Homo sapiens: one gene and its partners. The protein of the gene in region 7 interacts with the protein of the main gene of each other region in a biochemical or structural test. Each region holds a gene or a part of one and is shown on either strand. Other genes may lie near its edges.

Region 1 (4,409 bases), on a different chromosome or scaffold from region 7:
AGAATTTGGGACCCATCAAGTCATGGAAAAAAATGTTCAACCTTGCTAATGGTCAAAGAACTGCAGTGTAGAACATCTATAATTTTCACCTACAAACCAGAAACAAAAATGTTTAAATATTGATGCCAGTATTTATAAAGATGCAGGAAATTAGGCAATGCCTATGAGGGCTGGGGTGCTAAAGGAGGTGCACATTACTGAAGGTACTCTAGAAAGCTATTTGACATTAGTCAAATAATTGTGTGTACTCTTTGACCAGTAGTCACACTTCCTGGAATTCATTGTAAGGGAAAATTTCCGATAAGTGTAAATATTTGGCTACAAGTATACTGTTTTCTTATTAAAATGCTGAGAAATAATCCAGATATCCAATGGTAGGGGATTAGGTACATTATTGTATTCCAGAATACTATGCAGCCCTTAAAAATTATATTCTGGATGCGTACTAACTGGTATGGAAAAACAATGCCATATAAAAAAAAGCAAGTCATCAGATTGTATACAGCACAATTTCTTTTCTAAATATACATATGTGTTTTTTTTAAAAAAAAAAAAAAAAAGAAAGGAAGGAAAGCATGATGCCTCCCAGACTCTCAGCTGAGCTGGAGGGGACAGGTCCTCCAGGGCCAGAGTGGTCCCCAGAGCTCAAGTGGAAGGTGGACCTCAATAGGACCAACACGTTCACCTTCCCACTCCAAATTTCACCTTCTGAAGGGCCCAGGATTAAAATATCACGTAAAGGAAGCAGGTCACCTCCACGGAGGGGGCCATGGGCTGAAGCCTGGCTTAGAGGAAACAGCATGGGCCCGGGAGGCTGATGCTACACAGCTGGAATCCCAGCTTGGCCTCTTCCCCAGTGTGGGCCCTTGGGTAAGTCACCCCTTTCTGTAACAGAGGGGCTGTTGTGAAGACGCTGCATAGCGCACAGTATTTATGTAAGTTTCCATTAGGGAGCCTTCCACCTCCTTCCATCCAGCAGCCCCAGGGCAGGTGCGGTGGACTCCTCGCCCCCGCTCCCTTACTCTATGGAGGACTGAAGTCCTGCTTACCTGAAGAGGTGATACAGTGATCTGAGCAGGAGGAGGAGGAGTCCCCAGAGAAGCTGGGAGTGTGTCTGGAGTTGGGCCTGGAAGGATGGCTCCCTCCACCATCATTCACACGAACTGGAGGCTGGAAGGGAAAGATGGGGTCTCAGACCCACATTTTGGGGTTGCCTTCCTACCTTGGCCCTGATCTCTGATAGGAATGGCTTTGAGGAAGGTCTACAGGAAGGCGAAGCCTCCCAGTGCCAGGGGCAGAGCAGCCTCCGTCCCTACCCCAGTTCTGTTCAGGATGTCCCCTGCCCTCTGTCCCTACTCCCTGGGCCCTGGCTCCACTAGTGCTTCTCCTCTGGACCGGCTCATCCTCCCAGCAGGCAGACATACCCGGAACTGGCAGAAGTCGGAGTAGGTGGGGTCGTAGGTCTTATGGTGGGCGTCCAGCAGTATGGCAATGATGCGCTGCTGCTCCTCAGACAGCTTGGGCCGCAGACTGTCCTTCAAGGCCTCCTCCTCCTTCCGCTTCAGGATCATCTCCCGCTTCCTCTGCACTTCCTCATCTGTCAGAATGACTGTGGGGTGGGAAGGGGAGTCAGGAGGGCTGGCCAGCAGCTCCTCCAGGAAACCTTCCTCCTGCGGTTGGGGGTAAAGGTCCAAGATAGGAGGGGCTTTAACACTCGGGGCTCCCTCGGGGGTCCTCCTGCCACGGAGACTCCCACTCCACTGTGTGAAGAAAAATTGGGTTTGCTATGGTGAAAAGGAAGGCACATGCAAGAAGAAGAAAAAGAGGATTTGAGAGGGGGGATGATCTGGGCTTTAGGGAGTCGGGGTTCTCAAGAACAAGTTGTGGGACCTTGGGCAAACTCTCTGGGCTTTTGTTCTTTTGTTTGTAAAATGAGAGATTTGGACCATGTAAGTTCTTCCAAGGTTCCTTTCTTGTACCTTCCTCCATAAAGTGTGTGTGTGTGTGTCTGTGTGTGTTGACATGCAGGTGGGGGAAGTAATAATACCTGCCTCAAAGGATCAACTGATTTGAGAACTGGATGCATGCCTGGCCCAGAGCAGATGCTCACTAAATGTTAGTTCTCTTCTCTTCCCTACCCTGATGTTCCATGATCCTGAAGAAGATATCAGGGTGAAGAGAGGATGCCAGAGCTCTCATAGCGCTGGAAGTGAGATGTGGAGAGGACTCCTCTATGTGGCTGTCTCCACATCCAGGTTTCCAGACATGGGACTGTGGAATATAGAAAGACTAGACCTCTTTGGTTCTCTGCAAAACCACCCCTCCTCCAGCATGTACAGCCTTGACATTTCTGTCCATGGAAGTTTTCAAGTCCTCTTGAAGGCCCCAAAGGGTGAGGCCTTGCAGCTCTAATCTTAGAAGTTCTCTCCAGCCACTAATCAGGGTGTGGGGCCATAGAGAGCCCCACCACCACCTGCAGGCTTCTGCCTGCCTCCCTGTGCTGGGGCAGCTGTGGGGGTGGAGGGGATGCTGGGAGCAAAGGTGCCTGGCACGGCGGCTGGGCAAACAGACCTCCTGGCTGTGGCTTGCTGAGTGCTGACGGCAGGAGTGGGCACCAGGGCCTTTGGCCTGTAGCTACTTGCTTGGTGCTGCTGCTGCCAGGGCATCTGCCCACAGAACTGGGGAGTTTCACAAGAGCAGAGAAAGGAACCAGAAGCCCAGGGTGGGTGAGTTCCAGGCTTTGAGAAAGGTCCATTGGCCCAGGCCCTCAGGTAGGGGGAGGACGAGAGAAGTTGCTGTGGGGTGAGGAAGAGCCTATGCTGGGAGGGAGTGGACAGCCAATGCCACAGGCATGGCAGGAAAGCGAGCGCTACTGCAAGAGATGGTGCTTCCCTCCACAGGGAGCCTGGGAGTAGACCACACCCAGGTGACTGACTCACCTGCCCAAACAGCTGCCAACTCTCCTCCCACAGTGGGTGTCTGCACAGACCCTACCAGGTCAGGCAGGGTGGGAGAGGAAGGGGCAGGGAGCATCCAGGGAAGGCAATGGGGGTAAGCCCTCGCTTGGGGAGCCCAAGATTAGGTGTCTTGTCTTTCCTGCTCACCTGGGGACCAGAGTTAGGGAGACCTGTTTCTGCCAGCCACACCATGGTGTCTACAGGCACGTAGCTCAGCCTGACTGGACTTTGCTAACTTTCCAGTGATTCTGTGATGCCATTCTCCTGCCCAGATACTTTTCTCGGCCCCTACTGATGACCACGTCCAAACTAAAGTTGGCCTCTTCCTAACTTTCAGACTTCATGTCTTAGTGCTTCTGGACACAGCCTCTGTTCTGGGCATGCTGGCATTGCTGCTGGCCTGGGAACATGACCTGCTCATGCTCGCCCCTGCATTTCCAGTTGTGCTAGGTGCCCGTCCAGCTGGGTTTTCTCTCCCCCAAACCTGTATGAGTTCTACCAGTTCTTCAGTGCCTACATCATAGCCATCTTTTTCCATGAAGCATTTCTTGATTGCCCTGATCTGCATCAAGCCTTGTTTTTTTCTGCTGAGCCTCATTTCCTATGCCTGCTACATATTTAGTCTTTCCCACACACATTGACACCCAATTATCTTCTGCTCTGTAAGACTCATGGTTAGCACAGTTTTCAATTCATTACCTATAGACGGAGCCCAAGAAGTTCAAGGTCTCTTTCTCTAGATTACAAGTTACTTAAGGGCAGGGTCCATGTCTTACAATTCTTTCTTTTCTCTCCCTTCCTTTCCCTTCCTTCCTTCCTTCCTTCCTTCTTTCCTTCCTTCCTTCCTTCCTTCCTTCCTTCCTTCCTTCCTTCCTTCCTTCTTTCTTTTTCTTTCTTTCTTTCTTTCTTTCTTTCTTTCTTTCTTTCTTTCTTTCTTTCTTTCTTTCACAGACTCTCGCTCTATTATCCAGGCTGGAGTGCAGTGGCACCACCTCGGCTCACTGCAACCTCCACCTCCCGGGTTCTAAGCGATTCTCCTGCCTCAGGCTACAGAGTACCTGGGCTTATAGGCACATGCCACCATGCCTGGCCAATTTTTTTGTATTTTTAGTAGAGATGGGGTTTCACCATGTTGGCCAGGCTGGTCTCAAACTCCTGACCTCAGGTGATCTGCCCGCCTTGGCCTCCCAAAGTGCTGGGATTACAGGCGTGAGCTACCATGCCCGGCCTTTGTCTTACAATTCTTATATTTCCCCCATAAAGGCTAGACCGGAGGGGCTACCTGGCCGTGGTGTCTGCTCAATAGTCTGACACCAAATATCAAATGCATCCACACAGATTACACCAACTGTGTGCAAATCATTTTCCTGGTTCAGGAAAGGCTAGTGAGTACTCTAGTGCTGCTTGTCTCCTGCAATGTAGTGAATGGCACCTGGCACACCAGAGAGCTGA
Region 2 (4,409 bases), on a different chromosome or scaffold from region 7:
TAGGCTGAATAAAATCTGTTTTCACCACTTTAATGTCCGATTGTGTTTATCTCTGACACCTTGAGTCAGTCCTCTACTCAACTGCTAGAGTGATATTAACAATTACTGCTTATAGTTTTGTGTCCAAAGGCCTAAACCATGCAGGATCTTAATCTATCCCTCCCTGAAGTTCCAGAATTCTATCAGCCTTTGAACTCTTGTCTTTTCCATGACCTTCTCAGTAGAGCAGGTGCATACAGCATAGAAATCTTTCAATCAGCTGGGCGCAGTTACTCACACCTGTAAACCCAGCACTTTGGGAGGCCCAGAAGGGTTGATCACCTGAGGTCAGGAGTTCGGGACCAACCTGGCCAACATGGTGAAACCCTCATCTCTACTAAAAATACAAAAATTAGCTGGGCATGGTGGCAGGCGCCTGAAATCCCAGCTATTTAGGGGGCTGAAGCAGGAGAATCACTTGAATCCAGGAGGCAGAGGTTGCAGTGAGCCAAAATTGTGCCACTGAATTCCAGCCTGGGTGACAAGAGTAAAACTCTGTCTTAAAAAAAAAATTATATATATATATTTTTTTTTCTTTTTTTAAGAGACAGGGTTTCAGTGTTGCTGAGGCTGGAGTGATCATACCACTGTAAAATACTGAGATATTTTACAGTAGTGTGATCACGGCTCACTTATAGGCTCTAGCAGTCCACCTGCCTCAGTCTCCCAAAGTGCTGGATTACAGGCAGGAGCCACTGTGCCTGCTTAATAATATTTCAAAAGTATAAAAATATTACTGTCTGTAAGGGAGCAATGAAAGGGAGAATGGCATGAAATACGGCTAGAAAAATACGTAGGACATGTTAGAATCTGGGTTTTTATCTTTAGGACATTAGCCAATTTAGAGTTTTAAATAAGAGAAGTTACAGAATCGGATCTGTGTTTATTTTATTTATTTATTTCTGAGACCGAGTCTCACTCTGTTGCCCAGGCTGGAGTGCAGTGGTGTGATCTCGGCTCACTGCAACCTCTGTTTCCCGAGTTCAAGCAATTCTCCTGCCTCAGCCTCCCCAGCAGCTGGGACTACAGGCATGAACCACCACACTTGGCTAATTTTTGTATTTTTAGTGCAGGTGGAGTTTCACATGTTGGCCAGGCTGGTCTCGAATTCCTGACCTCAGGTGATCTGCCTGCTTCAGCCTCCCAAAGTGTTGGGATTACAGGCGTGAGCCACAGTGCCCAGCCAGATTTGTGTTTTAAATAGATCACTGTGACTGAAATATAAAAAATGACTTGGGAAGCAAAAGTAGAAGTGGAGAGACTTGTTAGGAAAAAAGTTACTATAGTAGTTTAGGTTTAGACCAGGGTGCTAACAGTGAGGATGACAAAACATGAATGGCTTTGGGATATATTTTGGAGGCAGAATCACCAGAAGTTGGTAATAACTACATATGAAGCAGTTATCAAAGATGAAGTTATCAAATTTTTCGTTTGAGTACTTTTATACTGACTTCTAATTGCTAAGTGTGAGTTTCTGTCGTAACTTATATTTTCTTTCCTGTACAATACTCATTCATACCATGAAAATTTTCCTCAATGCTATTTAATATATAATAGACAATAAATATATTGACAATGACTGATTTAAAATCCCATAAGAGCTATTAGACAAGTCTTTATATTAAAATAAAGGTAGAAATAAATAATACAAATGTGCTTAGGAATGTATGCAGTTGTGTATGTATACAGCAAAGTCTCACATGGTAAAAATTCCAGAGGAAGCAATGAGCCCAGGAGCTGGGTCTTAAAGGGAGCACAGAAGTGACAAATAGGGATAGTAAAAGGACACTCTAAGGAAGAAATAAAATATGGAGGTAGGAAAGGGCATGATGTAGTAGACAATGAGCAGACATTTGTGGTCAAAGAAAAAAAATTTTTTTTTTTTTTGAGACAAGGTCTTACTCTGCCACCTAGGCAGTGCAGTGGCACACAATCTTGTCTCACTACAATCTCTGGCTCCCAGGCTCAAAGGATCCTCCCTGCTCAGCCTCCTGAGTAGTTGGGACTACAGGCACACACCACCACGCCTGGCTACTTTTTTGGTAGAGACAGGTTTCGCCATGTTGCCCAGGCTGGTCTTGAACTCCTGGGCTCAAGTGATCCACCTTCCTTGGCCTCCCAAAGTGCTGGGATAATAGGCGTGAGCCACTGCACCTGGCCAATAACATGTCTATACAGGCCGGGCACAGTGGCTCACGCCTGTAATCCCAGCACTTTGGGAGGCCGAGGTGGGTGGATCACGAGGTCAGGAATTCGACAATAGCCTGACCAACATGGTGAAACCCTGTCTCTACTAAAAATACAAAAATTAACCGGGCGTTGTGGTGTGCGCCTGTAATCCCAGCTACTCAGGAGGCTAAGGCAGGAGAACTGCTTGAACCCGGGAGGCGGAGGTTGCAGTGAGCCGAGATCACACCACTGCATTCCAGCCTAGGCAACAGAGCGTGACCCCGTCTCAAAAAACAAAGAAAAAAAAAGAATACGTCTATAGAAACATGGAATATGGAGCTTAGCAGCAGCCACATTTTGGAAGTTTTGAATGCCAAGAATAAGAAATTTGGATATATATTGAAGACCAGTGGTGACCAATAAAAATGGGAGTCACAAATGTAATTTTGAGTTGTCTAATAGCTGCACTTAAAAATGTAAAAAGAAAGAGATGAAGTATGTCTATGCCAGGCAGTGGTATGCCTGTAGTCCCAGTTATTCTGAGTATTCTGAGGCAGGAGGATCACTGGAGCCCACGAGTTTGAGTCCAGCCTGGGCAACACAGCATGACCCTGTCTCTTTTTTTCTTTTTTTTGAGACTGAGTCTCCTTCTATTGCCCAGGCTGGAGTGCAGTGGCGCAATCTTGGCTCCCTGCAACCTCTGCCTCCTGGGTTCAAGTGATTCTCCTGCCTCAGTCTCCCATGTGGCTGGAATTACAGATGCATGCCACCATGCCCAGCTAATTTTTGTATTTTTAGTAGAGACGGGGTTTCACCATGTTGGTCTCAAACTCCTGACCTCAAGTGATCTGCTCCTCTTGGCCTCCCAAAGTGCTGGGATTACAGGCACCAGCCACTGTACCTGACTGACCCTGTCTTTTTTTTTTTTTTTGAGACAGAGTTTCACTCTTGTTGCCCAGGCTGGAGTACAATGGTGCGATCTCAGCTCACTGCAACCTCCGCCTCTGGGGTTCAGGCGATTCTCCCACCTCAACCTTCCGAGTAGCTGGGATTACAGGTGTGCACCACCACATCTGGCTAATTTTTTGTATTTTTAGTAGAGACAGGGTTTAACCATGTTGGCCAGGCTGGTCTCGAACTCCCAACCTCAGGTGATCCGCCTGCCTCGGCCTCCCAAAGTGCTGGGATTACAGGCATGAGCCACCATGCCTGGCCTCCCAACCGACCCTGTCTTAAAAAAATAAAATAAAAAATTTTTAAATGAAAAATTTTCTTATTTAAACTAAAACATCCCAAATACCATCATTTCAATAAGTAATCAATATAAAAAATACTGAGATATTTTACATTCTTTTTTAAAAAAGAAACGTCTAAATTACACCTTTGAAACTGAGTATATATTTTATTCTTAAAGCACATTTCAGTTCAAAGTAGCTAAAGCACTCTGTAGCCACATATTGTTAGTAACTACCATACTGAACGGGGCAATTCTAGACAACACTCAATTACTGAAGATTTTTCAGCAGGGTGTGGTTTGCAAAGTATTGTTTTAGAAATCTTATTAGAATACCCATTTTGTTGCTGACTGGATAAAGAAAGAGAAGGGAGGCAAGAAATGAACAACGTTTTTAACATTCTGGGTATGAGGCCTTGCTTCGAATGCTTGAAAATGGAAAAGGAATGAACGTTTAAAATAAAAGGAAGATGTTTGAGAGCATTAGTCCTGAAGGAGACATGAGAAAGAAAAAGGGACGCAAAGATTCAGAGAAATTTTAAGCTCAGAAGAAGGGAATGGCAATGGCTAGACATTCACATTTTGGCACTACAGAACACAGGAGCATATAATGAGAAGGGAGTCCAGGGGCAGTGGCTCACGCCTGTAATCCCAACACTTTGGAAGGCCTAGGTGGGCGGATAACTTGAGGTCAGGAGTTCAAGACCAGCCCAGCCAACATGGAGAAACTGCGTCTCTATTAAAAATACAAAAATCAGCTGGGCATGGTGGCGCCTGCCTGGAGTCCCAGCTACTGGGGAGGCTGAGGCAGGAGAATCACTTGAACCCAGGAGGGGGAGGTTGCTGTGAACCAAGATGGCACCACTGCACTCCAGCCTGGGTGAGACTTTGTCTCAAAGACAAAAACAAAAACAAAAAAAGAGAAAGGAGTAAGAAGGGACTGAGAATTTGTGAGAAAATGTCAAAT
Region 3 (4,400 bases), on a different chromosome or scaffold from region 7:
GCCTCCTGGGTTTAAGTAATTCTTATGCCTCAGCCTCCCAAATAGCTGGGATTAGAGGCACATGCCACCACGCCCAGCTAATTTTTGTATTTTCAGTAGAGACGGGGTTTCACCACATTGGTCAGGCTGGTCTCGAACTCCTGACCTCAGGGATCCCCCCTGCCGCCTGCCCCCCGGCCTCCCGAAGTGTTGGGATTACAGGTGTGAACTAGGCTGACACTATTAAATTATACTTTTGGCCGGGTGCAGTGTGGCTCACGCCTGTAATCCCAGCACTTTGGGAGGCTGAGACGGGTGGATCACCTGAGGTCAGGATTTCGAGACTAGCCTGGCCAACATGGTGAAACCCCGTCTATACTAAAAACAAAAAACAAACAAACAAAAATATACTTTTGGGATATGTATTTGATCTCAATAACTTAATTTCCATTCATTATTGAACACCTCCAAAGGACAAGGCAATGTTCTTTCTAGGTCTGGAATATAGCAGGGTGTAACAAAAGTTAACTTCAGTTTAGTAGGTTGGAAAAAACATAATATGTAGAAGATGTCAGGGTATAAATGCCACAGAGGAAAGTAAAGTAGAAAATGGGGATGGAGGCTGGGCGCAGTGGCTCAGAACTGTGATCCAGGGCTTTGAGAGGCCGAGGTGGAAGGACTGCTTGAGCCTCGAAGTTTAAGGCTGCAGTGAGGTATGACTGCACCACTGTACTCCAGCCCAAGTGACAGAGCAAGCAGAGCAAAACCCCGTCTCTCTCTCTCTCTCCAAGTGTGTGTGTAGGGAGGACAGTGGGTAGGGGAGATGGAAATGTTTCAGAATGGGATTGCTTGTTATTTCACAAAAGGTGGTGGGAAAGAACTCAAAAACGCTGACACCTGAGTAAAGACCAGAACTAAGAAAATGAGGGAAGAACAGTGCAGGAGGGCTAATAGCTAATACAAAGATCCCCTGGCACATGTGAAACTCACCTTAATACCCATCAATTTCCTAAATTTGACATTTTGGTCCTTGTTTCCAAAATTCAATTTTTCCCATATTTCAGCAGATTGGGATTTGTCCTGTTAACAAACACTGAACTTTAAAATATGTAAAATTTAAATATTTTTTAGGACATGAAATCTCTCAACAATGTCTAAATTAAAAAAAAAAACACCATGGATAGCATTCAATCAATGTAAGTTTAATTATTTCAAGACTTAAGAAACCACAAAGCAAAGAAATACAAGCAAGAGGTTGGCGCCGTGCTTCACTCCTATAATCCCAGCACTTTGGAAGGCCGAGGTGGGCAAATCACCTGAGGTCAGGGGATCGAGACTAGCCTGGATGACTAGGTGAAACCCCGTCTCTACTAAAAATACAAAAAACTAGCCTGGCATGGTGGTGGGCACCTGTAGACCCAGGAGGGTCTCAGGAGTCTGAGGCAGGAGAATTGCTTGAACCTGGGAGGCAGAGGTTGCAGTGAGCTGAGATCACACCACTGCATTCCAGCCTGGGTGACAAGAGCAAGACTCTGTCTCAAAAATAATAAAAATAAAATAAAAAAATGGATTATTTTCCTGTCATAGACCTTTTTCAACATGCAATTTTTGCGACTGCATGTCATTTGCATTTAATGTCATTTGTCATTGCAAATAATGTCAAAAAAAAAAAAGTACCTCATAATCTATGAAAAATTCTAAACCAAGTAGCCTCTTTTCCTTACTACTTCTATGGTAATATTAGTTTTCTTTGAAAGCTTGACTTCAATCAATTATGTTTTATTTTAGTATTAATAACTGGCAAATAAGACTATCATAGCTTATTATAAGTTTTTTGAGACAGGGTCTCACCCAGGCTGAAGTGCAGTGGCGTGATTTTTTTTTTTTTTTTCCAGATGGAGTTTCGCTGGAAACTCACTGCAACCTCCGCCTCCCAGGATCAAGTGATTCTCCTGTTTCAGCCTCCCAAGTAGCTGGGATTACAGGTGCCCACCACCATGCCTGGCTAAGTGGCATGATCTTGGCTCACTGTATGTAGGCTCTGCATCCCAGGCTCAAGCGATTCTCCTGCCTCAGCCTCCCAAGCACCTGGGATTACAGGTGTGTGCCACCACACCCAGCTGATTTTTATCTTCTTTTCAGTAGAGACAGGGTTTTGCCATGTTGGCCAGGCTGGTCTTGGACTCCTTACCTCAACTGATCCGCTCACTTGGCATCCCAAAGTGCTGGGATTAAAGGCATAAGCCACCCGCGTCTGGCCACCCCAGGTTCTTACAAAGTTAAGCCGAAAGTAATATTTTTCAACCCAAATTTGTTTTTCTAAGCAATTACTAATTAGGAATAAACGACAGAAAAGCAGAATAAGAGAACTTACCCCTTCTTTCTTGCCCTGCCAAAGCATTTTCCTTTTTTTCTCTTGTTCAGCAAATTTCATTGGATTAACAGCGGCTGGGTTATAGTAGCTAGGAACAGCTATTCCTGTCTCTGCCAAAGCTTTAGCTTGCAGGGCTGCCATCTGAGCTGCCATGGCTATCTGAGGTGTTACTTGTGTTCCTGATGCCAACAGGGCAGCAACATTGAGAACAGAACCTCCAGTAGCTGCAGCTGCTTGAAGAGAATACAAAAATGGATTTTAAAACGATTTTAAAACATAAACCTCCTGATTTACATTAACGAACGATTTATAAAAAGCTATGAATGTGCAAAAAGGCAGGATTTTCACCAAATCCAAGGAAATGACTGAGTATTAGCTCACAAGTTTTTAGCAAACATTTATTGTGTTCATCAACGGACATATTTCTACATAAACCCTTGATATATAAACCATTTATTGCAAGGCGCAGTGGCTCACGCCTGTAATCCCAGCACTTTGGGAGGCTGAGGTGGGCGGATCACCTGAGGTTGGGAGTTCGAGACCAGCCTGACCAACATGGAGAAACCCCGTCTCTACCAAAAATACAAAATTAGCCGGGCGTGGTGGTACATGCCCGTAATCTCAGCTACTCGGGAGGCTGACGCAGGAGAATCACTTGAACCCAAAAGGCGAAGGTTGCAGTGAGTCGAGATCATGCCACTGCACTCCAGCCTGGGCAACAAGAGCGAAACTCCGTATCAAAACAAAAAAAAAACCCATTTATTTACTTTGAGGATAGAGAATTCTGCAAATAGTAAGAAAGTATGATTTCAGTGGAGATGAACTATAGTGTTTCTAAGGTATAATTACAAAACAATAAAACCTTGTATTTTTTTAAATTTATGAAATGTTCTCATGGACATTTCATTTGATGCTCACATCATATACTTGAAAAACAGTATGCAGCTAAGGCTGGGCGCAGTGGCTCACGTCTGTAATCCCAGCACTTTAGGAGGCCAAGACAGGCGGATCACAAGGTCAGGAGTTCGAGACCAGCCTGGCCAACATAGTGAAACCCCGTCTCAAATAAAAACTACAAAAAAATTAGCCAGGCGTGGTGGCAGGCGCCTATAAGCCCAGGTACTCAGGAGGCTGAGGCAGGAGAATCACTTGAACCCGAGAGGTGGAGGTTGTTGTGAGTCAGGATTGTGCCACTGTACTCCAGCACAGGCGACAGTATGAGCCTCCGTCTCAAAAAAAAAAACAAAAACAAAAACAAAAAAAAACCCAAAAACAACAACAGTATGCAGGTATTATGCTAAGTCCAAGTTCAATAAAGCCCTGGTATTTCCACTGTGATTGAGCAGTCCTCTGTAAAAAAAGACACCTCTGATTACCTATTTTTGTCAGTCCAGAATATAACCTTAAAAAGTACTTAAATTACCAACATTATGGGAACCAGAGTTACCAAAGAGAGTAATGATGTAGTAAAAATAAAATGGCTATTTGTAAACTTTTAGAGTTTCAAATAAGTGCCACTGTTTACCAAAAATGTAAAAAACAACAAAAAACCATCTTCCAGATTAAATTTCATACCAAATCAACAGTAAGCTCTTCGTGATAATTTTTTGTTTTTTGTTTTTGTTTTTTTCTTTTTCGTGAGACAGGGTCTCACTCTGTCACCCAGGCTAGAGTGCAATGGCGTGATGTTGGCTCACTGCAACCTCTACCTCCCGAGTTCAAGCCTCCTGAGTAGCTGGGACTATAGGCACACACAACCACGCCTGGCTAATTTTTGTATTTTTAGCAGAGATGGGGTTTTGCCATGTTGGCCAGGCTGGTCTTGAACTACTGACCTCAGGTGACCCACCTGCCTTGGCCTCCCAAAGTGCTGGGATTACAGAAGTGAGTCACTGAGCCAGGCCTGATAATTTTTGAAATCTGCAATGTTTGTTACGCATAAAAACTTGATTTCTTGAAAGAGAAATACATATTTCAGATCAGTTCACTTTCTTGCATAAACTACATTTCCAAAATCGTAAAAGACATCTGGGGCCGGGCGTGGTGG
Region 4 (3,716 bases), on a different chromosome or scaffold from region 7:
GCGGTCTCGGCTCACTGCAACCTCTGCCTCCAAGGTTCAAGCGATTCTCCAGCCTCAGCTTCCCAAGCAGCTGGAATTACAGGCGCCCATCACCACGCCCAATTTTTGTATTTTTAGCAGAGACGGGGTTTCACCATGCTGGCCAGGCTGGTCTTGAACTCCTGACCTCAAGTGATCTGCCTGCTTCGGCCTCCCAAAGTGCTGGGATTACAAGCGTGAGCCATTGTGCCTGGCCTTTTTTCTTTTGTTGCTTGTGTTTTTACGTTTGGTATGTCAAAAATCACTGACAAATCTAAGGTTACAAAGGTTTACATTATGTTTTCAAAGGTTTACATTATGTTTTCTTCTAAGAGTTCTATAGTTGTAGCTCTTTGACCCATTTTGATTTAATGTTTGTATGCTGTGTGAGGTGTATTCCTTGCCCAATGGAATGTAACTTACAATTATAACCAGTTGTGATTTTCTATAACACATCTCACAATTCGTGGCATCTTAGATTTGACAAAGTATGGAACACTTATCCCCTGAAATAAAAGCCTATATAAATGTGCATTTTTTTTCTGGAAATGAAAAATCTGTTTCTCTCAATAATACTAAAACTCTTTGAATATCAATGTGATGAGAACAAAATTTGTCATAAATATATACATTTTCTTATGATAGATATATTAGTTTAAGGCTTCAAGGAAGGCTTGAAGGCTTATACACAATCCTTATTATGTTGTTAAAAGTGAATGAAGACTGTCACAAGAGCAGCAATATGGCTGAAATGATCATGACAAAAATCCATTAATTCTACAAGTCAGGTTAAATTCCCCTGGAAGTTAACTTTATTTGACAGTGATGTAATGTCACGAGAAATAGTAATATAGGCACCAAGGAAATTTCTTTAATTAAAAAATGTAGGGGATTTTCAGAATCAAGGTTTAAATATGTATTGTGCAGAATATAAAACAATTAATAAACTCAACAGCTGGAGATTAACTTGGAAGTTAGAGAAGTGAAAAAAATCAGTTCTACTCGTATCAACCTACTAAATGTCCTAATGAACTCAGTGACAACCACAGAATCTGAAGACAATGGCTCACAAACAGGCTGATATCCATTTAATAGTTTTTGAAGATTTTTTCCTGTAAAATGGCTTGTATTTCCACAGGTACAATAGTGAAGAAATAAACTTTTCAATTTGACATGAAATATAAAACAACAATTTTACAAACATATTCATAAAATTTAACTGCTAATAACACAATACATGGTAAATGTGACCATCCCCTTAACTTCTAGACTATTTAATACAGAGAAGCAATCTGTCATCTCAGCTAAAAAGAAACATCTTTCCTTTCATTGAGTTTATTTTTGTTTGTTTAGAAACTGTCAAGCAAAACTGGAAAATACTTATTTTCCTTATCTTCCTCTAGGGATTCTTCATGAGGGCAAAGACTTATTTGAAAGGATGTAAGTTATACTAAAAAGAAAATACTGAACCTTTTTTTTGTGTTACTGCTTCAATGATGCTTAGATTATTTTAAAAAGATGCTGAAGTCGTCTCATTGGTCGCACAGAAGGAGGCGCATCATAACCTAAGCCACAAAGGCTAAACTACTGGGACAGAAGATTGACAGTAAAGGGATGGAGATGGATTTGGCTTAAAATCAAAGTCCTGTGGTTTGTCTATCAGAAATTCCACTGTTATGAGGCAAGGCTGCAAGAAGATAGTTTTTACCCAGCATTAACAATGGTGTAATCACACACCCTTTCAAGCACATCCAAAGAACAGAATGGCTTTAAAAAAGAAAAGAAGTGAAACAAAACCATAGAACTGCAGGTAACAATTCTACAACCTATATTACACTTCAATTAAGCAGAAAACTCTCGTAAGTGTCCACACAATACTGAGCTCCCAAATAACAGAGGTTTGAGTTTTTCCATGAAAAAAAAAAAAAAGACATTGAAGCTTTATGAACTAAAGAGTTCTCCTCAAGTTTCCCAATACAGTAAATGTAATAACTTAAAATAATTTCCCTATTGGTACTGGAAAATAAATTCTACTACAATCATGTTTATGCCAGTTTCTGACATATTTCTGCATCCAGATTCATTAGTCTCCTTAATGGAGCCCATCATTTTTCCAATGGCTTTCTCCTTTCTTTAAACCCTAACCCTGAAATTCTATAACCAGTTATATCACGTGGCTTCCCTGAGGCACAAAGGTACCAAAGTCTATAATTAACTATCGAGGAATGATAAATATGTTCTCTATTTATATTAACAGATTTTAATTCTTTTGGGCCACAGTTGGGAGAAAAAAATCCAGAAACCTTAATACTCTGCAGGGTGAACTGTAGCCCTTTTTGCTAAAAGCTGAACCAAATAAGGGAAATGTTGAGAGTTGCAGCATGCATGACCCGGCAGCACCGATTATTAATAAAAAATTCCGGACTAGAAAAATACTCAGAGTTGTACTCCATCCACTCTGAATCTTTTTTTTTGTAGTAAACGACATAAACAACTGAAAAATATTTCTATGGGAATACATCACTGGGACTTTTACTTCTGGAAAGCTACTTGCAAAAGGCATTAGAGTCAGGCCAAGACAACTAATTGGTCTGCAATTTCCTTGTGTATACACATGGGGGAGTGGGGCTAGTCCTTTAAAGTGATGGCAAGACATAAAAAAAGAAGTGACCTTGGAGAAATTACTTTTCTGAATTGCGTTTCTCCACCTTGGTGAGCTACAGAGTTCTTTATTTTCACAAACTAACTCAACTGTGAAAAAAAAAATCTCCTTAGTCAAAATTGTAAAGGGATCTTCCTACAAGTGGCCAAGAAGAGCCTGGTGTCCTTTTTGCTGATTTGCCACCTCTCTGCAGTTCCTTAGGCAGGGTGGGCGGGACCTGACTTTGGAAGCCAAAGGAAAAGATGTGGAGCCCATGGAGGGCGGTTCACTGTTACCCCTTCCAAGAGCTTGGAAATTATTTCCCAAATTTCAACTTATATTTAAGCTGAATTTACTAAAAGTCAGAAACTTTTAGTTAGACATATGCCCAACTACGGGACGTGTCCAACTTGGAAGGTAACTTCATTTTGGGGGATATGTCACGTTGCAGAATGACTAGACTTATAAACAGGACTTGAAATGGAAAATTATGATATACCTAACTCTCTGGAAAAATATCTTTTTTTCTTGGTAGGTAAAATCTGGCCTTTCTGGATGCAAGACCATTTAGCTTACAAGATGGTTTTAGGGCATCAAGAATCCTTCAACCACTTTCTAGGCATACAGCAAGAAAAGAGAACGAGTGCCTCCTTTGTCATTCTTTGGGGCCCAAAGAATTACAGGCTGAAAAGACATACTCTATCAGTGAAAGCTAATCATCAGAGACTCTGGCTAAATCAAAAGGCATTCAATATATTATTCTAGGCAAGTCCATTTTTTTCTTTCATTTTCTGTCTGCAGGTAGAGTAAGCTATACAGAATACAGCAAGCTATCTGTAAGAGGACTGTTGTCATCGATTTTCACACCATTTAAAATTTACCCAAACAAAACCAAAACCAAAAATGTCTCATCCTAAACAATGATCTCCACTGAAAAATAAAGCTATATTAAAACTGAGAGGCTGAACTTTAAACATATTACATCAAATTAAGCAGCAGCAATCAAGAGTAATATTATCGTATCACTTTAAGGAAAAGCGTATTCAAATAGGTTAGA
Region 5 (4,240 bases), on a different chromosome or scaffold from region 7:
TTTCTCTTTTTGTCCTCTAAACCTATTTACTAGCCTTTGGCATTTATTCTATTCAGTCTCCTTATTGTTTCCTTCTCCTCATCTGAATCTTCTACCCACCATATCTAATCGAAAACTCTCTTCCTTTACCAATAATTTAAAATATGGCTCAAACTGTTAAAGACAGTTTTCATCTTGCCTAATAAGGATCAAATTTTTCTTTAAAGATAGTTAAAAAATCCATACTTATATGTTGTAAGCCCTTAATTAAAGCCTTACAGCAAGAAGCCTTTGAGTACGAATTTAGGCCACATTTGCCCATCCAAGGTATCTATTCTACCAAAAGCCCTTGACATTAATAGTCAACATTATTGTATCTACCCCACTCAGCCATTCTTGAAAGGGGAAAAAATCAAGGTTGCCAAAACTTTAAAAATTACTTTAATTCCAGAAGCCAAGTTCTAGGCATATGAAAAAGCTCTAAAATAATTAAAATATACCATTCCAGGATGCTTTAAAAATTTAAAGAACATCCCCGGTAGATCCAATGCTAAATCTAAAACCATCATCCATAGCAGCAGCAGATATGCTACATAGAACGACGTGCCAAGCAATTTTTTAAAACGCTTTACATATATTAACATTTAATTCTGACAACCTGAGTTAGAAAGAATTAAGGATAGCCATTACACATCTCTGTTGCAAGAGCCAGCTCCAATATATCAGTAAGGAGATGTGAAGATGAAATGTCAGAATTTTCACCTGTGAAATCAGAGTGCCAGCCCAGACATACATATTGTTCTCATCATACTGTGAGCTTCATAAAGCAGGGGCTACACCTTACTTCCTCACCACTGTATATCCAGTATTGTGCACAGTGCCTGGTACAAAGTAGGCATTCATGCAATATTTCCTAAAATAAAATATACTGGGGGAGAGGGCATTTGTTTTCAACTTAATGTTAACTCAGGTGAACTTAAGTTCACAACACAATTATTATTTCTGAATATTTGTATTTACACAGGAGAGGAAATGTACTGTAAATCAACCCATAATTTTAATAGAGCGAAGATTAAAATATCTTACTGAAAGCTAACTATTTTGCCAATTCTACAAAATGGTTGGATGCAAATTAATTCAGTAATCAAGACAAAACAAGAAAAGACTGTGGGTTTTAGTTCTAATAACCACCGAAAGTAATCCAGAAGCTGTGCTTTCACACTTTTAAAAAGGATAACATTTGCCTTTACCATTTGATGGATTTTTTCTTAATTTTTAAAAAAATTTTTGTAGAGACAGCCTATGTTGCCCAGACTGATCTCCAACTCCTGGCCTCAAGTGATCCTCCCACCTCAGCCTCCCAAGGTGCTGGGAGTACAGTCGTGAGCCGCCACTCCTGAGAACTTTTATACACACAACTATCAACTAATTCCAGATTTTATAAACCCAGCATTTCCATTATCTAAATTTCCAAGCCAACACGTTTTGCAAAATAAAACAATGTTAACCATCTTTTCAACTTCAAATCACTTTTGGTTGGGGGACGGGGAGACAATGTCCGTTTATTTTAATATGAAACAGAGAAACACCTAAACTGCCTTACGAAAACATCAATACCACCAAATCCTTGCACTTGTACCCTGACTGGCATAAACTGGCCACTTTCCTCCATCCTGGCATAAAATGGAGGCACCGCGTTGCCTCGAAAACAAATCCTCAGAAACGATTTTAAAAAGCATTACTGACAATTTCTTGATTAAGACACCCCAAACGCCAATTACCTGCTACAGCGAGTCTGCTTCTGAGAATGACCTTGAAATGCAATGGTTTGAAGTGTTGAAACAGAAAGGTGTTGAAAATAAAACACAGCCCACAATGGGTTTTCTGGTACAAACATTCTGGTTCCCTCCAGTCTGAAAGCCCAACCATAGCAGCATCCTTACTCCCAAGGAGGGGCCTACTTGTGGTGCCTGGGATGCCGGCATTGAGACATCAGACGACGCGAAGGCATAAGGCATGGGGCAGGGCAGACAGCCCTGAGCACATGAATAAAATGTGTTGTATTCAAAAACTGAAGTATTAAGTGGCACCTAAAAGGAAGAAAACTAGACCTAGGCATTACAGCTAGATCTCGAAACCTTACTGTCAGAGTGAAATCTGCAAAAATGATACTAGGTTATACCATTCGTATCACATCAACACTCACAAAGCAATACCATGTACGTGATGCGAAAGCATAAACAATTCACTGGAAGGATTAAAAAAACACACATTTTGAAGTCGGTTACCTCTGGAGAGGTGGGGAAAGGATGAGTTAAAAGCAAACTCCGTTTTTCCCCATTATGACCGAATACATAGGATGGGAACAAGCCTTCCTTTCAGAAAAGGACTCTAACCCTGGAGGCTGGAGGATGAGAAAGGGGCCTGAGAGAGGGAGGAAGGCGCGCATCCGCCAGCGGGAGTTGGAGGCGGGGAGGTGCAGAGGCGTGAAGCGCGCCGAAAAGCCGGGGGCGCGTCGGAGAGTCTATAGGAGCTTTCACGAGAGAAATGCCCGCCAAGGCCGCGCCGCACTTACAGGTTGATGGTGCGCTCCAGGGTGAGGGGCTTCGTCTGCTGGATGTACTTGTTGCCGAACTGAGTGACCCCCCGGGGCCAGCCGGTCTGCGAGCGATTGGGCGGTACCACAGACATGCTGGCGAGCTCCGGCGCTGACGGCGAGCAGAAAGTGGCAGGCAGGGTAGACTTTCCCCGTGCGGGAAGCGGTTATCTGCAATCCCCTCAGCGGCTACTGCCCGCCATTAACAGGACAGCGCAAGAGGAGGCGTAGGCACGCCGGAAGTGAACCCGGAGCCTCTGGCGGCAGGAAGTAGAGGGGCGGTGGCCTGCCAGACCGAGCTCCAGTGGGCCAATTGCTGGTGGGATGGCTGCAATAGCTGGAGCTCCCATTGGTAAACCGGGTATAGGTTCCGCCTTCTCTTACTTTGGTGCTTCCCATTGGGTAGGGCCGGGAAACACGATAAAGGGGACATGCCGGGAGTTGCAGTACCCTCAGGAAGGTAGCGTCTTGATCTGCGTGGCGTGGTTCTGTGCCTTGGGAAGAGATGAATGGGAAGCGGCCAGCGGAGCCCGGCCCAGCCCGGGTGGGAAAAAAGGGAAAGAAGGAGGTGATGGCGGAGTTTTCGGACGCTGTTACGGAAGAAACCTTGAAAAAGCAGGTGGCTGAGGCCTGGAGCCGCAGGACGCCGTTCAGTCACGGTAACCGGGTGCTCTCAGGGAGGGGCCGCCACGCAGAGGTCTAGGGATCTCTGAAAAAGCCCTGGGACTCGCGCCCAGCCTTGGGCAGCGGGGCCGCAAGGGAAGAGGCTCTTAGAGGACTTTGGCCACCTCCTACTCTCCTGCCTCGGCTGCTGCTCCCTTTCACTCCAAATTCGGTTGCAATTTAGAAACGTGAGAAGAGGGAGAAATGGAGGCCGGAGAGTTTTGGGAAGCAGAGGGTATGCAAGAGATAGTTGCATTCTGGAGTCAAAGATTACTGAGTTAGAATCCTCTCCCCTGATTGGGCGTCGCCAGGCAATGGAATTAACCTTATTAAACTTCAGTTGCTTCCTAAGTAAAATGGGATAGTTCATAATATTTACCTCGGAAAGTCGGTGAATGGGAGCGACACACTAATGCTTGCAGGCTTCAGTAAATGTTTCCCTGAGTAAGGCCCAATACACATGTGGACAAATACAGGAGTGGCTGATGTCATTTCTCCTGCAAGGGCATTGCTCAGCTGTCCCAGGAGAGTCTAGCCAGGGCATTTGTCGTGAGCTGCCAGCTTGACTCCCTAGTGTACTCGTCTCTACGCGCCTGTAGTTTGACTCCATGATGTATGAAAATAAACGCGCTTTGACCAAGGAAAGGCGCCTACGTTGAACGATTCCAGCCTCAGCTTTAAATATCACCTTAGGTGTTCAGAGCTCTGCTTCATGCGCCAGGCATCCCCTTCTAGAGTTTGCCGTAATTTTTCTTTCCGTTGTCAAGTGCTTTGAAGAGGTGAGTCCTGGGTAGGCTGGATGCCTATAGAAAACGATAGCTTAGTGTTTAAGTGCAGGCTCTGTACTCTCAGTTTCTTCATCTGTAGAATGGGGAGAGTGATAATGTCTCCCTCAGAGCTGTTAAAAAGATTGAATGAGATCATGGGCCTGGCACCTGGTAGGTGGTGCTGATGATTACAGGATGGTGATCTAGCCAGCCGGAAGCAGTGGGTAAATGTTGG
Region 6 (4,409 bases), on a different chromosome or scaffold from region 7:
ACACCTGTAATCCCAGTACTTTGAGAGGCCAAGGTGGGAAGATAGCTTGAACCCAGGAGACCAGCCTGAGCAACATGGCAAGACTCCATCTCTACAAAAATAAAGCTAGCTGGTGGAGCCTAGGGATTCCTCGCCTACTCTAGAGTAACCCAGAACCTCCCAGAAATACCTGAATTCATGAGTCCAGCAGAGGTATTCCCGATATGTGACATATGCAGACACTGCTTCTCCCCTAAGTGCTGCTTTTCTTCCATGACCGGGGAGAAAAGTGCCAGGCTTTCCTTGGAAGACACTCATCTACAGAGCTAGCATTATCTTTATACTCCCTTTACATACCTTGAGTTAACAGTTCAAAAGTATAGCTCTTCACAGCATCTTCATTTTGAGCTACAATAGTATAATGGCCACTGTCTTCTTCCTTAGCACGGATCAGCTTTAATTTGCTTCGATACCTTTTAAAAAAAGGATTTTGTTTCAACAAGCAGTAGCTAAGTAAGTTCCAATTGTTTAAACAATTGTACTCTTCAATTTAAGTTTTATTTTTACTGTAAAAAGTAAAGTCATCTTTTTTTCTTGTCCATATCATCTCTTCTGGAATTCTCAATATATAGTGCACACACTGAAGGTCTGGATCATACACACAATTCTTACAAGAGAAAACCAGACATTCAGAGATGAGCAATGGCCATCTCCAAGAGCTATCAGTTCAGCCACGGCCTGACTTCTGAATGAATAAACACAGCCTACCAACTTTTCTTTAAAAAAATAAAAAATAAAAACCTTTGATTTTTACCTTTTTTAAAAAATACTTGCTTCCCCTAAATATCCATCATTTAGGTGGTTCAGCCAAAAAATGGAATATCACTGGAGGATAGAATGAGGACACTTTCTATGTATTTGTATGTAGCGGTCTGCAGGATATGACAGTCCTACTTGCTTGTATTTTGCTTAAAGAAACTCTGGAAGGTTTCATAAGAACCTAATGAAACTAATGAAGATGTTTCCCTGTGGGGAGGAGGGGAGAACTGGGCAGCTGGGGACAGGAGTACAGTGAGGCTTCTTACAATGCATTCTCTTTTTGTTTGATTATTTTTCAAGCACGGGATTCTATCACCTATTAAAAAAAAGTTATAGGCTGGGTGTGATGACTCACACCTGTAATCCCAGCACTTTGGGAGGCCAAGGTAGGTGAATCACTTGAGGTCAGGAGTTCGAGACCAGCCTCACAAACATGGTGAAACCCCCATCTCTACTAAAAATACAAAAAAAAAAAAATTAGCCAGGCATGGTGGCACATGCCTGTAATCCCAGCTACTCAGGAGGCTGAAGCTGAAGAATCGCTTGAACCCAGGAGGCGGAGGTTGCAGTGAGCCGTGATCGTACCGCTGCACTCCAGCCTGGGTGACAGAGCAAGACTCCATCTCAAAAAAAAAAAAAAAAGTTAGAAAAAATATGCCTCTTCAAAAAAAAAAAATATATGTCTCTTCAAACTTTATTAAAGAGAAACTTCCCCAAAAATATTTTACATGGATTATAAATGACATCTGGTTGTGTGTGTGTGTGTGTGTGTGTGTGTGTGTATGTATGTGCATAAATATAGTATGTGCCCATTTGATTGTCCTTTATAAATCATCACAGTTGAAAAAGCAACTGGAATGGAGAAGAAAAGCATTGGTCATGGAGTGAGAAGATCTCGGGTATTATTACAATGCTCCATGCCTCAGTTTCCTTGTGTGTAAAACGTGATAATTGTACACATAGCACAGAGTCATTGTGAGAGTTAATTAAAGGAGATTGTATGTGTGAAAGCATTTCATAGGCTCCAAAACACTTTGCAAATACTGGGGCACTCAGACCTACGAAGACAGCAGGCTGGACCATACTGGGTGTGCTCCAGGACTGGATTTCCTTAAGAGAGTACCCTGGGGCACACTAGGATGCTGATTACCAAATTATCCTCTGCTGTTTGTTCTCTTCACTTCTTCGGCCAAGAAAACCACTGGTTTTCTTGCTCCAGGAAAGCCAGATCCCCCATCCTGGAGTTTTAAGCTCCAGGAAGCCAGATCCCCCATCTACCATGTTCATCTTTGTATTCACTGGCTCATAACAGGAACTAAAAAATCCACGTTGAAGCATCCTTGAATCACTAAAAGGAAAAGGCAGCTTTCCAGAACCACTCAGTTGGCGAGCCTGTCCTGCCACTGCTATGGATTATGGCTTGCAGACAGTGCTCACACACGTGTTGGAGGTGTTAGCTGTACCAGGGTTGTTACCCTATTCCTCTCTGGCTGCACAGCCTCATGGAAGTTCCTCGTGGAAAGCTGCCCTCCTTGTTGTACACCTTCATTTTGTGTCAACAGAAAGCCTTCCAGATTCAGTATCCCACTTCATTTTTCCTTTACTATTCTATAGAGGCTGTAAAATTCCATTTTCTCAGACATTGCTTCTCAATTACACGTGGAATTTAGTTCACAAAGAAGAAAGCAAATCCTGAGGTGAATGGAACTGATGAGAAAGGCTCTGTTCTTCCTCCTGAAGGCTTGAAATACAGGACTGACTTTGTCTTTCTGAGATGATTTCTGACAAAAGTATAGGGCTGGTTAGCTGGGTGCTGTGAGATGTATCTTCTGACTCTTGGGTTCTAATCACAGCTTAAAACCTTAAGAGGCCTCATGATATCATCTGATCCAATTCCTTGCCTTGAAGGACATAAGGTATTGTTTATCCTACATTGTAGATGAGGAAACTGTGGCTGAGGGGTGACTCATTCAAAACTCCACCACCAATTAAGAGATGAGAGCAATCTACCATTCTGATTAAAAGGTAGGGATCCAAGCAACTCACTGCACATCTCTCTCCTGATTAGCCAGGCTCTACTCTTCTTTCCTGTGGAGTCCTCAATTAGGGCAAATGGGTTCCAGATTAAGCCTATGACGTTAACTTTCACGTAAGGTGATGTGATAACTGCCTCATGGGTGTAATCACCATATCTGTCTACTTGCGATATGGATGATGAACATCAGGGAATATATTCAATCTATTCAATCCTGGTGAGTCCAATTTTACTTCCTTTCTTCCACCCTAGCTGAATCCAGTGACCTGTCTTTCCCCAGGGGCCAGAGCTTTTAGTTCTTTCTTCTCATCTTCTCATTAAATACTTACCAGCATACTAATACCACTTTGCAATGTTATCATTAAAGGGATGTGATTTCAAGCATCTCTTAACTCAGATTGTTACATTTTCTAGACTGACTTTGGGTCTGGGTTGTAAGACACACACAAACCTCAGTCCGCCTCTGATGCACACTAAAAAAAGGCATACTTGGGCAGAGAGTTTCTTTACCTTATTTCCTGAATCTTTTCCACATCAGTGGTGATCTCAGTGAGATTTTCAATCAGAGTCAGATTGTTTTTCAGCCAGGATATCCTGGGAGGTGGGTAGGCCCGCACCTCTACAACAAAATGTTTGACTTCATGCAGGTTGACAGCTTCCAACTGGCTGAAGGTGGGTTTGATTTCAATGAAACCTTTCTCTGTACAGGGAAGAGTTTCCATTAAATAATGATTACCACATATGGATCCCGAGCAGCATGGACAACTGACATTTTAGAAAGCGGAATGTACCATGGACAGAAATAGTGACTTTCTTCATTTCTTTGACCTCCCTGGTAGCCTGGCGGGCAGCACATTCGTAATCTCCACTGTCTTTCACCGTGGCCTCGGGGACCGTCAAAGTGTACACCAATTTGATGGATGGGACTTTGATTTCTTCCAGCATTGTGATGCCTTTGCCTTTCTACAGCAAAAGGGGAAGAAAACCGACTTTTAAAAAGCTCGCTCCTAGGAGTGAACTCTAAGATAAACTATGGACTCTGGATGATATGGATGTGTCAATGGAGGTTCAGCAGTTATAACAAATGGATGGTAGGGATGTTGACAAGGTGGGAGGCTACACATGTGTGGGTGTAGGGAACACATGGGAAATCTCTGTACCTCTCAATTTTGCTGTAAACCTAAAACTGCTCTAAAAGATAAAACCTAAAGAATAAAAGCTAGCTGCTTAGAAAATCATGAGATTTTTTATTTTGTTTTTAATTTTTTTAGAGACAGAATCTCACTCTGCTGCCCAGGCTGGAGTGCAGTGGCACAATCATGGCTCACTGCAGCCCCAACCTCCTGGGTTCAAGTGATCCTCCCACCTCAGTCTCCTGAGTAGCTGGGGCTACAGGCTCATGCCACCACACCTGGCTAATTTTTAAAAATTTTTGTAGAGACGGAGTCTTGATACATTGCCCAGGCTGATCTCAAACTCCTGGCCTCAAGTGACTCTCCTGCCTCAGCCTCCCAAAGTACTGGGATTACAGGCATGAGCCACCACACCCAGCCCATTTTTTAAAAGGACAGTTAAT
Region 7 (4,409 bases):
CGGGAGCCTGAGGCAGGAGAATTGCTTGAACCCAGGAGGCGGAAGTTGCAGTGAGCCAAGATCATGCCACTGTACTCCAGTCTGGGTGACAGAGCGAGATTCCATCTCAAAAAAAGAAAAAAAAATAAAAGAGAGAGAAAAAAGAAAAAGCAGAGGAAAAGACAAATTTGCCACGGTTTTAAAAATCAATTTATGTAAAAAGCACACTATAAGTGACATCTGAAGGACCTATAACAAGCTGAGAAATAAAAGTCTGCCGCACAACAAAGGATACTTTCTCTTTTTTTTTTTTTTTTTTTTTTTGAGATGGAGTTTTGCTCTTGTCGCCCAGGCTGGAGTGCAATGGCACGATCTCGGCTCACTGCAACCTCCACCTCCCAGGTTCAAGCAATTCTCCTGCCTCAGCCTCCCAAGTAGCTGGGATTACAGGCATGCACCATGACGCCCGGCTAATTTTTTGTATTTTTAGTAGAGAAGGGGTTTCTCCATGTTGATCAGGCTGGTCTCGAACTCCCGACCTTGGGTGATCCACACGCCTCAGCCTCCCAAAGTGCTGGGATTACAGGCTTGAGTCACCAGACCTGGCTAGGATACATTCTTAATAAAGAGTTCTTAAGATCAAGAAAAAGATCAACAATCTAATATTAAAAATGGGCAAAAAATTCAAAATTACAACAAGGTATTTTATAGATTACCAGATTTGGCAAGATTTTTCAAGTAATATTACCTAGTTCTGGTGGCTTCACAGGAGATACAAGAACACTCCCATTTCCACTGCTTTGCCTAGAGCAGTCCTCTTCCAAGTCTTTGTTCAAATGTCACCTTTTCAGTGTGGCCTCCATCACCCTATTTAAAACTGTAACCTTATCTCCATTTCTCAACCCCCACTTATCTTTCTCTTTTTTCTCCACCTATCACCTAATATACTATTTAATTTACTTATTTATGTCTATTGTTTATTCTGTCTTTCCTCCCACTATAATAATATAGTAGCCAACGGGACAGGAATGTTTTTCTTTCACTGCTGAATCCCGAATATGGAAAACAATGCTTGGGACAGGGTGGGAGATCAAAAACTATTTGTTTAATGAATAAGAGTTAAACTAGTTAAATCCTTTTTTTTTTTTGAAACGGAACTTTGCTTTGTTGCCCAGGCTAGAGTGCAGTGGTACGATGTTGGCTCACTACAATCTCCACCTCCCGGGTTCAAGCGATTCTCCTGCCTCAGCCTCCTGTGTGGCTGGGATTACAGGCACCTGCCACCACACCTGGCTAATTTTTGTATTTCCAGAAGCAGGGTTTCACTGTATTGACCAGGCTGGTCTTGAACTCCTGACCTCAAGTGATCCCCCTGCCTCAGCCTCCCAAAGTGCCAGGATTACAGGCTTGAGCCACTGTGCCCGGCCAAACCTGTTAAATCTTGCTGGAGGAAGGCCGGGTATGGCGGCTTACATCTGTAATCCTGGCACTTTGGGAGGCTGAGGCGGGCAGAACGCGACGTCAGGAGATCGAGACCATCTCGGCTAACACAGTTAAACCTCGTCTCTACTAAAAATGCAAAAACAAAATTAGCCAGGCATGGTGGCGGGCGCCTGTAGTCCCGGCTACTCGGGAGGCTGAGGCAGGAGAATGGCATGAACCCGGGAGGGGGAGCTTGCAGTGAGCCGAGATCACGCCACTGCACTCCAGCCTGGACGACAGAGCAAGACACCGTCTCAAAAAAAAAAAAAAAAAAGAAAAATCTTGCTGGACAAAATTTTGACAAAATGAACTAAAAATATTTTAAATGTATATACCATTCGAAGTATTTATCCTAAGGAAATAATCACTGATGTAAGCAATGATTTGTCCAAAAGATTATTCACTATAGCTGTGAATTAATTGTGAAAAACTGGAAACAGCCCATAGTGGAATATTTAATACACGAAAAATACTCATGATAATGTTAACTAGGGAAAAGTATGCCCAGTGATTCCATTTTTGTCTTTAAAGGTATATACAGGCCAGGTGCGGTGGCTCACGCCTGTAAGCCTAGCACTTTGGGAGGCCGAGGTGGGCGGATCATGAGGTCAGGAGATGGAGACCATTCTGGCTAACACGGTGAAATCCCGTCTCTACTAAAAATACAAAAAATTAGTGGGGCGTGGTGGCACACACCTGTAGTCCCAGCTACTCTGGAGGCTGAGGCAGGAGAATCACTTGAACCCAGGAGGCGGAGGTTGCAGAGAGCCGAGATTGCACCACTGAACTCCAGCCTGGGCGACAGAACGAGACTCTGTCTCAAAAACAAAAAAAAAAAAAAATATATACACACACACACACACACACACACACACACACACACACACACACACGTTTATTAATAAAAATTAAAATAAATTATGGTTGGCTGGACACAGTGGTATGTGCCTGTAATCCCAGCTACTCGAGAAACTGAGACAGGAGAATCGCTTGAACCCAGGAGGCTGAGGTTGCAGTGAGCTGAGATCTCACCACTGCACTCCAGACTGGATGACAAGAGCGAAGACTCTGCCTCAAATAAATAAATAAATAAATTAATTAATTAATTAATTAAATTATGGCATATCAACTTAATGGAATGCTAGATGAGGTTCTCTTTCTGTCCTGACATGGAACTATTTCTAAGACTCAGTGAAAAAGGCAGACCCTAAAAAAAATAGTAAGGCTGCACTATATGGAATATAGAACCAATTTCCAAGGTGCACTGCTAAGTGTAAAAAGCATCAAATACTATTTCATTTTTTAAATTGTTTCAAATTTACTGGCTCTACTTCCTACTGAATAAAAATGTTAGATATTTAAGTATTTTCTCTTGTAAATTTTTTTTTTAATTTGTGGCCAAATTCAAGTAAATTTTCAATATATCTCCCAAATGACTCCACAAATCAGTGTTAGAGCTGAATTAATTTTACTACCAAATGTATACTAAATCCATAATTATTTAACTGCAAATAAAGTGAAAATTACTGTCCAAACCAGCTTCCTAAGGTAAGTAATAAAATCAGTAAGTATGAAATCCATTCTGGAATTATGTTCCATAGAAACAACTTCAAAAACAGACATATAGGTCAGGCACGGTAGCTCACACCTGTAATACCAGCACTATGAGAGGCCAAGGCAGGTGGATCACTCGAGGTCGAGTTTGAGACCAGCCTGGCCAACATGGTGAAACCCTGTCTCTACCCCGAAAAATACAAAAATTAGCCGGGCGTGGTGGCAGGTGCTTGTAATCTCAGCTACTTGGGAGGCTGAGGCAGGAGAATGGCTTGAGCCCGGGAGGCAGAGGTTGCAGTGAGCTGAGAATGCGCCACTGCACTCCAGCCCGGGTGACAGAGTGAGACTCTGTCTCAAAAAACAAAACAAAACAAAACAAAAACAGACACACACTGTTAAATTATAAAAGCTTATGACAAACAAATAAAGGCTCACAGCTATTGGTATAAACACTGAAAACAAATGTTCAGAGGGAGATAGATGATTGTGCTGTTTCATAGACACAGGACAGTATGTCATGAAAGGGCACCCAAACCCCCAAGCATCCAGAGGTCTCTCATTCAGAAGCCTCTTTCAACTCAGCTTCTACCTTACCTGTTGTAAGACACACCAAAAGCACTGTCACTTAGAAACACATGATTGGTAGCCAGGGCTTTGGGTATGTCAGACCTGGGTTCAAATCCCAGCTTTGCAATTTTCTAGGGGAGTAATCTGACAAACCTCAATTCTCTTATCTGTAAAGTAAAATGGAGATCATCACCAACTAGTTAATGTTAGTAAATAAAAGCACAGCGTCCACAAAAGTAAAATGAAGAATTGTCTAAATAAGAAAATTTAAAATCCCAAAGTCAAATACTCCAGCACAGTGAAAAGAACCCAAAGGAAATCCACTCTAACAAACACAGAGCTGGAAAGGGACCCTGAATTCCAAGTTTTGGTTCTTCTGTCACCAGCTTCAAGACCCTGGGTTTAAGATCTGCAGTACCAGGGGACTGAAAATCCCTTCTGCCTGTGACACAACACGACTAAATTACTAAGGATGCTATTTACTGTAACAGTTCCAAAACTTTCTAAAATTTTCATTTAAACGCTTTGTTTTTATATCTTTAGGTCCTGATCAGTTTTCACTATGACTGAACTGCCAGTCAGGATATATACATAAGACTGTTTCCTTAACTAACTTGTCTAAGGTCAGATTGCTAAAAAGTAGCAAAATCAGAATTCAAAACCACATCTATCTCCAAAGACCAAACTCTATGGCATGCTTCTTCCTCAAATCTTCTTCCTGACTCACCTCCTGTAACTAGCAGCTTGCCTTAGCAAAGTAAATGGAAGTCATCAGGAGTGCAGTCAGAAGTCATGGAACAGAGTCAAGTTACCTTAGTTGAGGCTTG

The links.
Region 1: of the proteins of SRPK1 (region 7) and VDR, one has a biochemical effect on the other in vitro, tested with the Homo sapiens proteins (one large-scale study listed by BioGRID and IntAct).
Region 2: of the proteins of SRPK1 (region 7) and FKBP3, one has a biochemical effect on the other in vitro, tested with the Homo sapiens proteins (one large-scale study listed by BioGRID and IntAct).
Region 3: of the proteins of SRPK1 (region 7) and RSRC2, one has a biochemical effect on the other in vitro, tested with the Homo sapiens proteins (one large-scale study listed by BioGRID and IntAct).
Region 4: of the proteins of SRPK1 (region 7) and PELI2, one has a biochemical effect on the other in vitro, tested with the Homo sapiens proteins (one large-scale study listed by BioGRID and IntAct).
Region 5: of the proteins of SRPK1 (region 7) and NUDT21, one has a biochemical effect on the other in vitro, tested with the Homo sapiens proteins (one large-scale study listed by BioGRID and IntAct).
Region 6: of the proteins of SRPK1 (region 7) and PDGFRA, one has a biochemical effect on the other in vitro, tested with the Homo sapiens proteins (one large-scale study listed by BioGRID and IntAct).

Annotation. Positions count from the first base shown.
Region 1 is NC_000012.12:47,856,080-47,860,488, forward strand, and holds part of VDR (vitamin D3 receptor), read right to left. Parts: intron 1,610-4,409; coding exon 1,425-1,609; intron 1,171-1,424; coding exon 1,050-1,170; intron 1-1,049.
Region 2 is NC_000014.9:45,123,992-45,128,400, forward strand, and holds part of FKBP3 (peptidyl-prolyl cis-trans isomerase FKBP3), read right to left. Parts: intron 1-4,409. UniProt on the Homo sapiens protein: FK506- and rapamycin-binding proteins (FKBPs) constitute a family of receptors for the two immunosuppressants which inhibit T-cell proliferation by arresting two distinct cytoplasmic signal transmission pathways. PPIases accelerate the folding of proteins.
Region 3 is NC_000012.12:122,505,865-122,510,264, forward strand, and holds part of RSRC2 (arginine/serine-rich coiled-coil protein 2), read right to left. Parts: intron 2,587-4,400; coding exon of another isoform or gene 2,584-2,586; coding exon 2,354-2,583; intron 1,060-2,353; coding exon 970-1,059; intron 1-969.
Region 4 is NC_000014.9:56,298,678-56,302,393, reverse strand, and holds the end of PELI2 (E3 ubiquitin-protein ligase pellino homolog 2), read right to left. Parts: 3' UTR 870-3,716; downstream 1-869. UniProt on the Homo sapiens protein: E3 ubiquitin ligase catalyzing the covalent attachment of ubiquitin moieties onto substrate proteins. Involved in the TLR and IL-1 signaling pathways via interaction with the complex containing IRAK kinases and TRAF6.
Region 5 is NC_000016.10:56,448,533-56,452,772, forward strand, and holds the start of NUDT21 (cleavage and polyadenylation specificity factor subunit 5), read right to left. Parts: upstream 2,801-4,240; 5' UTR 2,671-2,800; coding exon 2,555-2,670; intron 1-2,554. Other genes in the region: prolyl 3-hydroxylase OGFOD1, read left to right, coding at 3,081-3,234. UniProt on the Homo sapiens protein: Component of the cleavage factor Im (CFIm) complex that functions as an activator of the pre-mRNA 3'-end cleavage and polyadenylation processing required for the maturation of pre-mRNA into functional mRNAs.
Region 6 is NC_000004.12:54,266,676-54,271,084, reverse strand, and holds part of PDGFRA (platelet-derived growth factor receptor alpha isoform 1 precursor), read right to left. Parts: intron 3,797-4,409; coding exon 3,625-3,796; intron 3,534-3,624; coding exon 3,344-3,533; intron 453-3,343; coding exon 337-452; intron 1-336. UniProt on the Homo sapiens protein: Tyrosine-protein kinase that acts as a cell-surface receptor for PDGFA, PDGFB and PDGFC and plays an essential role in the regulation of embryonic development, cell proliferation, survival and chemotaxis.
Region 7 is NC_000006.12:35,913,690-35,918,098, forward strand, and holds part of SRPK1 (SRSF protein kinase 1), read right to left. Parts: intron 1-4,409. UniProt on the Homo sapiens protein: Serine/arginine-rich protein-specific kinase which specifically phosphorylates its substrates at serine residues located in regions rich in arginine/serine dipeptides, known as RS domains and is involved in the phosphorylation of SR splicing factors and the regulation of splicing.